Regions from separate parts of the Homo sapiens genome. Here region 2 is reported to be linked to region 1. Evidence: microRNA targets listed by miRTarBase, many of them from high-throughput screens and not tested one by one. Region 1 holds a microRNA gene; the other region holds the end of a gene's coding sequence.

Region 1 (4,403 bases):
ATGTCTAAAAATTTCCCATCCTGTTTCACAATTTGTGTATCTATTTTAAAATAAAAAAGTTTAAAGTTGTCTACGACTTAAATTTCTTAGCTTTAATTGTCCAAATACGTGAGTCCAATCACAACTTGGCTTTAAAGTACCCTCTGAAATGAGGGAATCAATATTGCTATTAAAAAATCCTTCCATACACAGTGACGACTCAGGATAGCAGCTCTGCCAGAAAGAAAAGATGATCTGTGCTATCCTTCTCCTGAGCAGTGGAGCAGGCCCAGTCCCTCAGGGTTACCTTTAGGGTAATCAAACTTGGCTTTGAAGCTGAGTCCTAGACTAAGTAAATAATTATCCTCCCAGTTCCCTCATCTTTAACATTAGGGTAATAATAACCCCTTAGGGTTGTTGTATTGATTAAATAGGCATAGAAATCTCCTAACACACTTTGTGTCTAGATTAATGGCATAAGAGAATACGGTAGGAGGTAAGCAGAGAATGTGTTTGTGCAGCTCACACACATGCACCTTCTGTGGGTAAAACAAGACTACATTAATAAGGACTCCACTGCTACTACGGAAACAAAATGTTCAGAATTTCTTAAATTCTGTACTAGACTCATTGACACAACAATCCAAGGAACCGTAGAAACCTGGTTGTCACCTAAAAACCTGAGAGCTGTGGTGCTGAGGTGACCAAGCACACGAGATACGTGCCTGTAGAATGCGTGCGTCTCTGTTATCGCTCGGTAGAGCCCGCTGGCCGCCCTGGTGCTGATCATTTTAAACAAGAGCACGATGCTGTTCCCAGATTCCTTGGTGACCGTCAAATATACATTCTTTCCTGACTGGGTGGCCATCTGCACCACAGGATAAGCTATCCTAAGAGACAGGAAGAGAAAAGAAAGCAGATCTAGAAGGAGTGATTCTTCACCATGTGTGTGCCTTTGTGGGATCCCCATTTGCTCATGACCTAGCAGAAAAATCAGACGCTTCCTCTGGGGTTATCACATCACCATAATGCTGCCTTATTGTAAAGATACAGTGAAAAGCAGTTGGGCATATGTGGAGGGAAGTATGGGAGCAAGTGCTGGGTGTGCGCACATGCATGTCTAGAGCTGAAAACAAGTTTTTTATGGCAGTGAATGGGTTATTTGGAAAACGTTAACTCTGCCACATTGTATACCTTGAATAACATTTAAAATGGTTATTTAGGCCTGAATAAAATTAATGTACATACCAAAATGAAATCTTTCATTCCTAAGAGCTGACTGTCGAGTAAATCCCTTCCTATTTTCTATTACATTGACAGCTACAGATGTATACACATGCTTAGGTCAAAAAAAGTTAAGTCTTGGCTTACCTATTAATTGGGCTAAAGTCATCTTTACAAATTGAGATTCCTTCAGGTCCAACCCCAATGAGCAGTTTCTGCCCTTCGCTATCCCGCACAGAATGCCATTCTATGCCATAGTTTTCCATTGCCGACACAATCTGCAAAACTTGGTATTCAGCTGAAGCCTGGCTGGTCCCCTCCAACTCCTTATGTTTTGCAACAATGCTGGAGGACACCAAGAGGACAGAGAATTAAGTATACAGATATTAGCTTTAGAGATAAACCTATGTAGTCTTCACGAGTGAAATATACTAACACTGATGAATCACAACAACTTAAAACTTATGTATTACTGATGTTTCATGTATTTAGCGAACTTACTATAAAAAACGTCTAAGACACTGGGATCTCAACTATTAAATACTTGGTAAAAACACTTTGGGGATGCTGGATGGGTGATGAATTGGAAGAATTATGGAAAGTCTCTAAAAATATACATAAGTCAAATTTACATATTGGAAAGTCTCATGCATTTGTCCACATATAGTTTATAAGTATAAAGTTGACCCCTGAGGCCCCTGTGGCCAGGGAAGGAGGTAGGCCAACAAACCACAGGAGTCAACCTGGCATGGAGGCCACCCTCAGTCGAGCCTTCAGATGAGACAGAGTTCTACCTGCAGCTTGACTACAGTCTCATGAGCCAGAGGACCCAGCCAAGACATGGCCAGATTCCTGACCTACAGAACTGTGAGACAATTTTTGTTGTTTTATGTCACTAAGTTTTGGGGTAACTTGTTATGCAGGAATAGATAACTAAAATGCCTATGTTAGATCTCCTGGTTTAATTCTTGCTGGGATGAAGAAAACACCAATATACATAATAGATTTTTTATTTTAGGAGATTTGTACTTAAAGGCACAGATTTAAAAAATTCCCATTTTATATAGCATTTCATATTGTGTTTACATATTTTTCAAATAAAAGGCTAACAAATTTTTTGAAAATATTTGGTTAAATTGGGCAATGGCCCAGTCTTAACTTCACAAATTATGTGTATGTACCACAGATTCATCTTCTTTTGGAAATGCTTATACATTTGATAGCTCTATGAATATATGCAGTAGCCCTGATGCTGCCATGTTCATGCTCTGGTGTCTCTGGTCTTGCTGCTCCCTCTGTCCTGATGGCCATTCTTTCTGTCCCCTTGCTTGGATACCCTTTGGTCTGTATCACATGCAAATCCTCTATTCCTCTGGTACAGTATTTGACATAACATGTATATTATGTATGACTTCTTAAGTGCCTCGAACATCAGAGAGCTCAAAAATGTACATAAAACTGCATATTATGTGTGATTAGTTTACCTTCCAACCTTAGTTTCATCCTGTTTAAGCCTATTCTAGTTGTAAACAATACTATATTCAACAGCCTCACCTGTTCAAGGTGGCAGAGGAGAGCTCCTTGGCACAGAGCTCCTCATAGTTATACTTGGCAGTGTTCTGGTTGTAGTCTCCAAACTTGGTCTGGGCCAGGAGGGCACTGAGTTCCACTGCCTGCTCTGGGGAACACAAGAGGTGGCCTGCCAAGAGGGCCTCCTTGATGTGCAAGAAAAAGATATGCCTGCAAAGCAAGGTGAGAGTGAGGTTATGCTTGGGGATAACCTGACATCAATCTCAGCCTACTTAGCAATTTCACAGTCACTTTTAAGGAAAGCAATTTTAAAAGTCACACTGAAAATGCTTAACATTAAAGAACTTCAAAAAAAAATCATCAGTATTAAGGCAAAATCAAAATAAGAACTGCGTTTCTCTGGAATAAAAGTTGTGACCCAAACAAGATAAACTTATTTAACACAAGTTCGGTAACATTAAGGTTACAAAACATAAAATAATTACACATAAGTTTCTGCATTATAGTGTTTTAAAAGAAATTATTTTAATCAGAAAAATTGTATCTTGACATGGATTCTGATAGAATCTTAAGGAACTCTATACATAAAGACAAAATTCTCACCTTTATTCAAATGATACCCCAATCTCTAGTCTCAGTGCCAGCTTCTGTCCTAAGAATCACATGAAAAATGTCCAATCTCCTATAGGCTTCACCACCTGGATGTTCTTCGGTACCTCAATTTTGGCTCATTCAAAACCAAACTCCATATATTCTTTCCCAAGCCCTTTTTCTCCGAATGGAGACCACGGACTGACTTTGGACTCTTTGTCCTATTTCACTTGACTTTCTTCTCTCTGAAAACTATTTAAATCCAGTTCTATCCTCCCATTTGTACCTCCTCAATACTACTTGCAGGAAGAATTTACACTATTCTCTGCGCTGCTCTCCTCCTCCAGACTCCATGCAGGCAGCCTACCTTCCATGCTGCTTGTTTCTAGTATAAACTTGTCATTTCTCTGCTCAAAATCCTTCAAAGGATCTGTACGGCTTGCCAAGGGAGCACGTTGTTAACGTGGAGCTGAGGAGTCTCCGCCATCTGGCCCCAGCTTTCCAGCCACGTCTCCTGTCATTCCCTGCAGCTGCTATGCCCCAGGATAGGGAACGATTCCTCTCCCTGGGAAATCTAGGAAGCATGTTCATGCTCTGGTGTCTCTGGTCTTGCTGCTCCCTCTGTCCTGAGGGCCATTCTTTCTGTCGCCTTGCTTGGATACCCTTTGGTCTGTATCACATGCAAATCCTCTATTCCTCTGGTACAGTATTTGACATAACATGTATATTATGTATGACTTCTTAAGTGCCTCGAACATCAGAGAGCTCCAAAAATGTACATAAAACTGCATATTATGTGTGATTAGTTTACCTTCCAACCTTAGTTTCATCCTGTTTAAGCCCATCCTAGTTGTATACAATACTATATTCTACATTTACTAAAAGGTTATGTCACACTTAAAAACTCCTGTAAAATTCAGATACTGGTCACACTGCCCAAAACTCTGAAGAGCACCTAAACTGCTGTAGACAGATTGGCCTCAGTTATAACAAGTGTCCCTGGCAAATGTGAAGTTTTAACCTTCCTTCGATGACTTGTCATAACCTCTCAAACAAGGCTAATTGCCACATTATTCGTC
Region 2 (4,403 bases), not on the chromosome of region 1:
AAATACACGCTGTGCAGATATAAATACTCTGTAAAAATCCACAAAAACATCCAGGGGCCCCAAAGAAGAGAGGCATAAACAGATACAAGATGATAAGTCTTTCTTAGCAGAAAACGCTGCAAGTGAAGAAACTGGAGTGAAGAAAGTGGGGGAAGGAGTTCTGAAGTGAAACAGAGGAAAGCTGCTCAGGAGATGACTGCGGGATATTTATTAGAATCCTTGAAAAACATCACGCCATCTTTCCAGAAGAAGAGAAGAGGTTTACTCTGGGTGGCACAGACCAATTCAGCTTTCATGGTCTTCCTCCGTAGCACTGACCAAATCAAAATACTGCAGCGTTTCACTGTGGTTAACAGGATGGAAAGGAGGAAAAAACTAAAAACAAAGTATTTGGATTTGTCTAAATACTTTAGAACTTGATATAAATGTATCAAGTACATTACAGTTGTTTTAGTTGGACGAAAAAGAAAACAAAGAATCAAAAATAAATTACTAATAAACATGAAAAAGATAACATGTTTCTAATATGACAATAGAGTTTTGGCCAAAGATATGTAGACATTAAGCTAATACAATTCAAATATCCACCATCTTCAGTTACCTTATCTGTTACACTGTCAAGTTGTTCAGCAGGCACACAGGTGCACACACACACACTGTATTTTCTGGCTAGTGTCCTTTGCTATTTGATTTTTGCTCTAGCATAGAGTTTTGGATGTCTTAAAAACTAAACTCTTTGTAAACAAACAGTATCTTCATCTCTGAAGCATAAAATTACATGGTCTTGACCCAGAGAAAGAGGAGAGACATTTAATAGACATTTCTCTTCCAGTTAAGTAGGAGTCTGATCTTCTACAAAATAGTTTATTTGTCTTTTTAATAAAGGTTGAAAAAATGTCCACCCTGGATTAAAAAATCAGTTAACCAAGGGGAACGTATTTTTTTTTTAAAGAGTAGTTTTAAAAAGTATTAACTGGTGTCCATTAGACATATTTCCTTATATTCAGCTACTAGAGAAAAAACAGTTCCCAGGGAATTTGGGGCTTTCTGCTTCTATATGTGGTCATCTTGTGCGAGTGTTCTAATCTAATCTATTCCCTGCCCATACATAGCCTCCTATTCATAAGACTGGCTGAGGTATTCACGCTGAGATGAATACACATGCTCTAAGACCAGACGCGAAAACCTAATGGGCCCAAGTACTGTCTGTGAACATCAACACATACCCAATGAAGAAAACTTGTAATGTTTTCATCAACATAAAATGGGTGACATTATGTATGTGAGGCTGCATCCTATTAAGAGTTCAGAGACTCCAGATCCATAGCAATGAAGTCGCCTCTAGGGACAGGTTCTTCTATTAAGTGGTAAGAAAAAAGTAGCTTTTGTTGCTTTTAAAAGGTTATTTAACACTTGGATATTTCTAGCACCGTCAATTCTGAGGAACTCTACATATTTCAAAGCAAGTGGCTTTTGATCCTATGAATAGGTTCACTTCTAATTCAGCATCCTTCAGAAGAGCCCATTACTGGCTCTAGAAAGCTGTCAATGTCCAGAGCAACACATTATTACTCTGTAAACTCAGTGATTTAGGTGGAGAAATAATATCCACATTTTAAGTAACAAAAACCCGAGGCAGCTTAAATGACTTCTCCAAGCGACCTGGTGACTCTAGGACATTTATCTCCACTGCTGTTGCTCAAATCCATCAGAGAATAGCTCTGGACAGTGGAATAAACATACCACACCATGGAATGAGCCCAGGAGACCTGCAGAGCCACGTCTCAGTTTAAGAACACAATGTGTGCACCACACACACACACATACATACACACACACACACACAGTCTTTGTCTATAGGCAAACAGAGAAGTGGCCGGTGAGTTCAGCTGCTTACAGAGGAGCATGTACTGGTATGTAAGGTTCCAGCTAAGTAAAGAAAAGGGATGTGAAAGTGCAGCCACTTCCGTGCCCTTTGATCACACACAGACTACACAAGAGCACACAGAAGCTACGCATATTACAGCAACAGCGTTCCTCCTATTCAAGATTGTCCAGTGAAAGGAAAACTGGACCTCTGAAATGATTAGCAAAGAGAGGCATGTTTCCACACACAATAAAGCACATCCAACCATCCTCAATACCCATCGAGAATGCTAAGATACCTCATAGGACAATAACAACTTTCAATTGTCGTTGAGGTTTGACCTGATTTACACATCACACACTATATATCTCCATCTATGCATTCCCTTGATGGGTCGTGACTCTTAACAGAGTCATCGGGCAGAGGGGAATCTCCTGGTGGTGAAGCCTTATCCTCCCACTTGAGACCCACCCTTCTGCCCTGTGAGTGCCCGGCTGGGCCAACAGGGACAGCCATGGCTCTTGCGGTGCTGAGCAGGGCCATCCTGCCGTCACCACTGTGGCCTAGGCAATGGGCTTCAGGGGTGTCCAGTCCATAACAACCTTTCTTTTTTTTTTTTTTTTTTGAGATAGAGTCTCACTCTGTCACCCAGGCGGGAGTGCAGTAGCACGACCTCAGCTCACTGCAACCTTCATCTCCCGGGTTCAAGTGATTCTCCTGCCTCAGCCTCCCAAGTAGCTGGGATTACAGGCATGCGCCATCACACCCAGCTAATTTTCGTATTTTTAGTAGAGATGGGGTTTCACCATGTTGGCCAGATTGGTCTTGAACTCCTGACCTCAAGTGATACACCCACCTCAGCCTCCCAAAGGGCTGGGATTACAGGTGTGAGCCACCGTGCCCGGCACAACCTTTCTTTGTTATGAACACTGTGTCTGCTGTGAGATATGCTGCAGGGCCGCCCTAATCACAGAAAGCAATGGATAGAAGCATCTGACTTTTGCATAGAAAAAAAAAAAAGCAAAATGTGGGAAAGAGGAGTCCCACTAGTCTTGCTGCACTGTCACTGGGAATCAGCTCAGGGGAACATCTCTTTCCTTCCCAAAACGCTGGAGGAAGTCCAGCCCTGCTGTTACTGGTGTCTCGGTTTACTTGGCCACTCCTGGTGATAGTGGTGCCTGCAGCGTCTGACTGACTGTGAGGTGCTGCTGAAGAAGGAAAAGGTGATGGGAGACAAAAGGGATAAGGTCACAGGATGACAATGACTGCTGTAGCAGAGATGCATTACAACAGCAAGAGAAGGGACAATCTTTTCCAAGACCATGGATAGTAAGCCTTTTGTTCAGGAGACTCAGAATTCAGAAAACAAGAATAATACTGAATATGTCGGTAAACAAAACAGAAATAAATGAATGGGCTGTTCAATAGTCCAGAACTGTTCTTTTTTCTATTTTAGGGCTGAGGGGTTTCTATTTAGTCTACATGTGTCAGTCTGAGCAACGTGAGAAGTCCCCTCCTGAAGATTTCCTTTTGCACGGCTGGCTCAGCACTGCGGGTAGCTCGGCATTAACAAAAGCGAAACGGTGGTCAGACCTTCACAGGGTCCCACCCTCACGACGACACTGGTCTACGTACTCCAGACAGGCCTCAGTTCTTCTTGCTGTCCTTCTGAGGCTCACTTTTTGTGGTCCCTAGGTTGTTCCACACCTCTGTGTACATTAAGGTCCCAATGAAGACAAACAAGGTGCCCAGCCAGTGCCACAGGGTGAAGGGGTTCTGGAAGTACAAGATGGAAAAGATGAGGCTCACAAATTTGCGTAGGGTCACGACGAGCGTGACGGTGAGGGAGGCGCATTCTGTGGTGAGGATAAACACACCCCGGATGCACACGTACCTGGAGGAGTGGAGTCAAGGTAGTTTTCTGTAGACTGTACTTGGGGGATCAGTGAGAGAACCTTCTGGCATGGTCCCTGGTTTAACTTCTCATATTCTAAGAAAACATGAAGGTCCGCTACGGCAGCTCTGAGGCTCCTCCTGGGGAGAACCTGCAGAACAACTCCTGTCCTGCCATTCCATTTATGGGTACCAATTTGAAACCGCCAAAAAACCCCCAATTATTCTTATGTTGGAGTCTTCCTATGGTTACAATGACAGGCACCTCCAAGATAATGACAGAGGGTGACGCTCTCGGTAAGGGTGATCCCATTCACCTTTATTTATCTTGCCTCCAGCCCTTCTATCCCCTCCTCCAGAAAGGGACTCTGGCAAATCTAGGAGCTGACTTCAGAGGAATGAGGTCAATCTCGATTCGTTTCACTATTTCAAAGACATAATTATTTTTATAATGAAAGTAAGGTCATTCGAAATAACCATTTTAAAAAACGAAAACTTGATTACTTTGAAATTTCTTTTTTTTTTTGAGACAGGGTCTTGTTCTGTTACTCAAGCTAGAGTGCAGTGGAGTGATCAAGCTCACTGCAGCCTCGATCTCCTGGGCTTGAGCGATCCTCCCACCTCAGCCTCCTAAGTAGCTGGT

Evidence for each region. The annotated mature microRNA hsa-miR-4639-3p reads UCACUCUCACCUUGCUUUGC and lies in region 1 at 2,946-2,965, opposite strand. An mRNA with a match to its seed (bases 2 to 7 or 8) in the 3' UTR can be bound and repressed. Matches are read on the target gene's strand: a 7mer-m8 pairs with bases 2 to 8, a 7mer-A1 pairs with bases 2 to 7 and ends in A, and an 8mer does both.
Region 2: the mRNA of SLC35B4 is a reported target of hsa-miR-4639-3p. Seed matches in the 3' UTR shown: 7mer-A1 at 2,504-2,510.

Annotation. Positions count from the first base shown.
Region 1 is chr6:16,140,165-16,144,567 of GRCh38, reverse strand. MIR4639 (microRNA 4639) reads right to left here and starts at 3,012; the gene lies at 2,944-3,012. It overlaps MYLIP (myosin regulatory light chain interacting protein), which reads right to left. Exons shown (of 7, transcript NM_013262.4): 3 at 2,758-2,943; 4 at 1,351-1,548; 5 at 705-869.
Region 2 is chr7:134,291,319-134,295,721 of GRCh38, forward strand. SLC35B4 (solute carrier family 35 member B4) reads right to left here. Exons shown (of 10, transcript NM_032826.5): 10 at 1-3,761. The coding sequence ends at 3,515. Among named protein-coding and RNA genes, the nearest start is that of SLC35B4, 23 kb to the right of the region's middle. RefSeq lists a silencer at 1,920-1,979.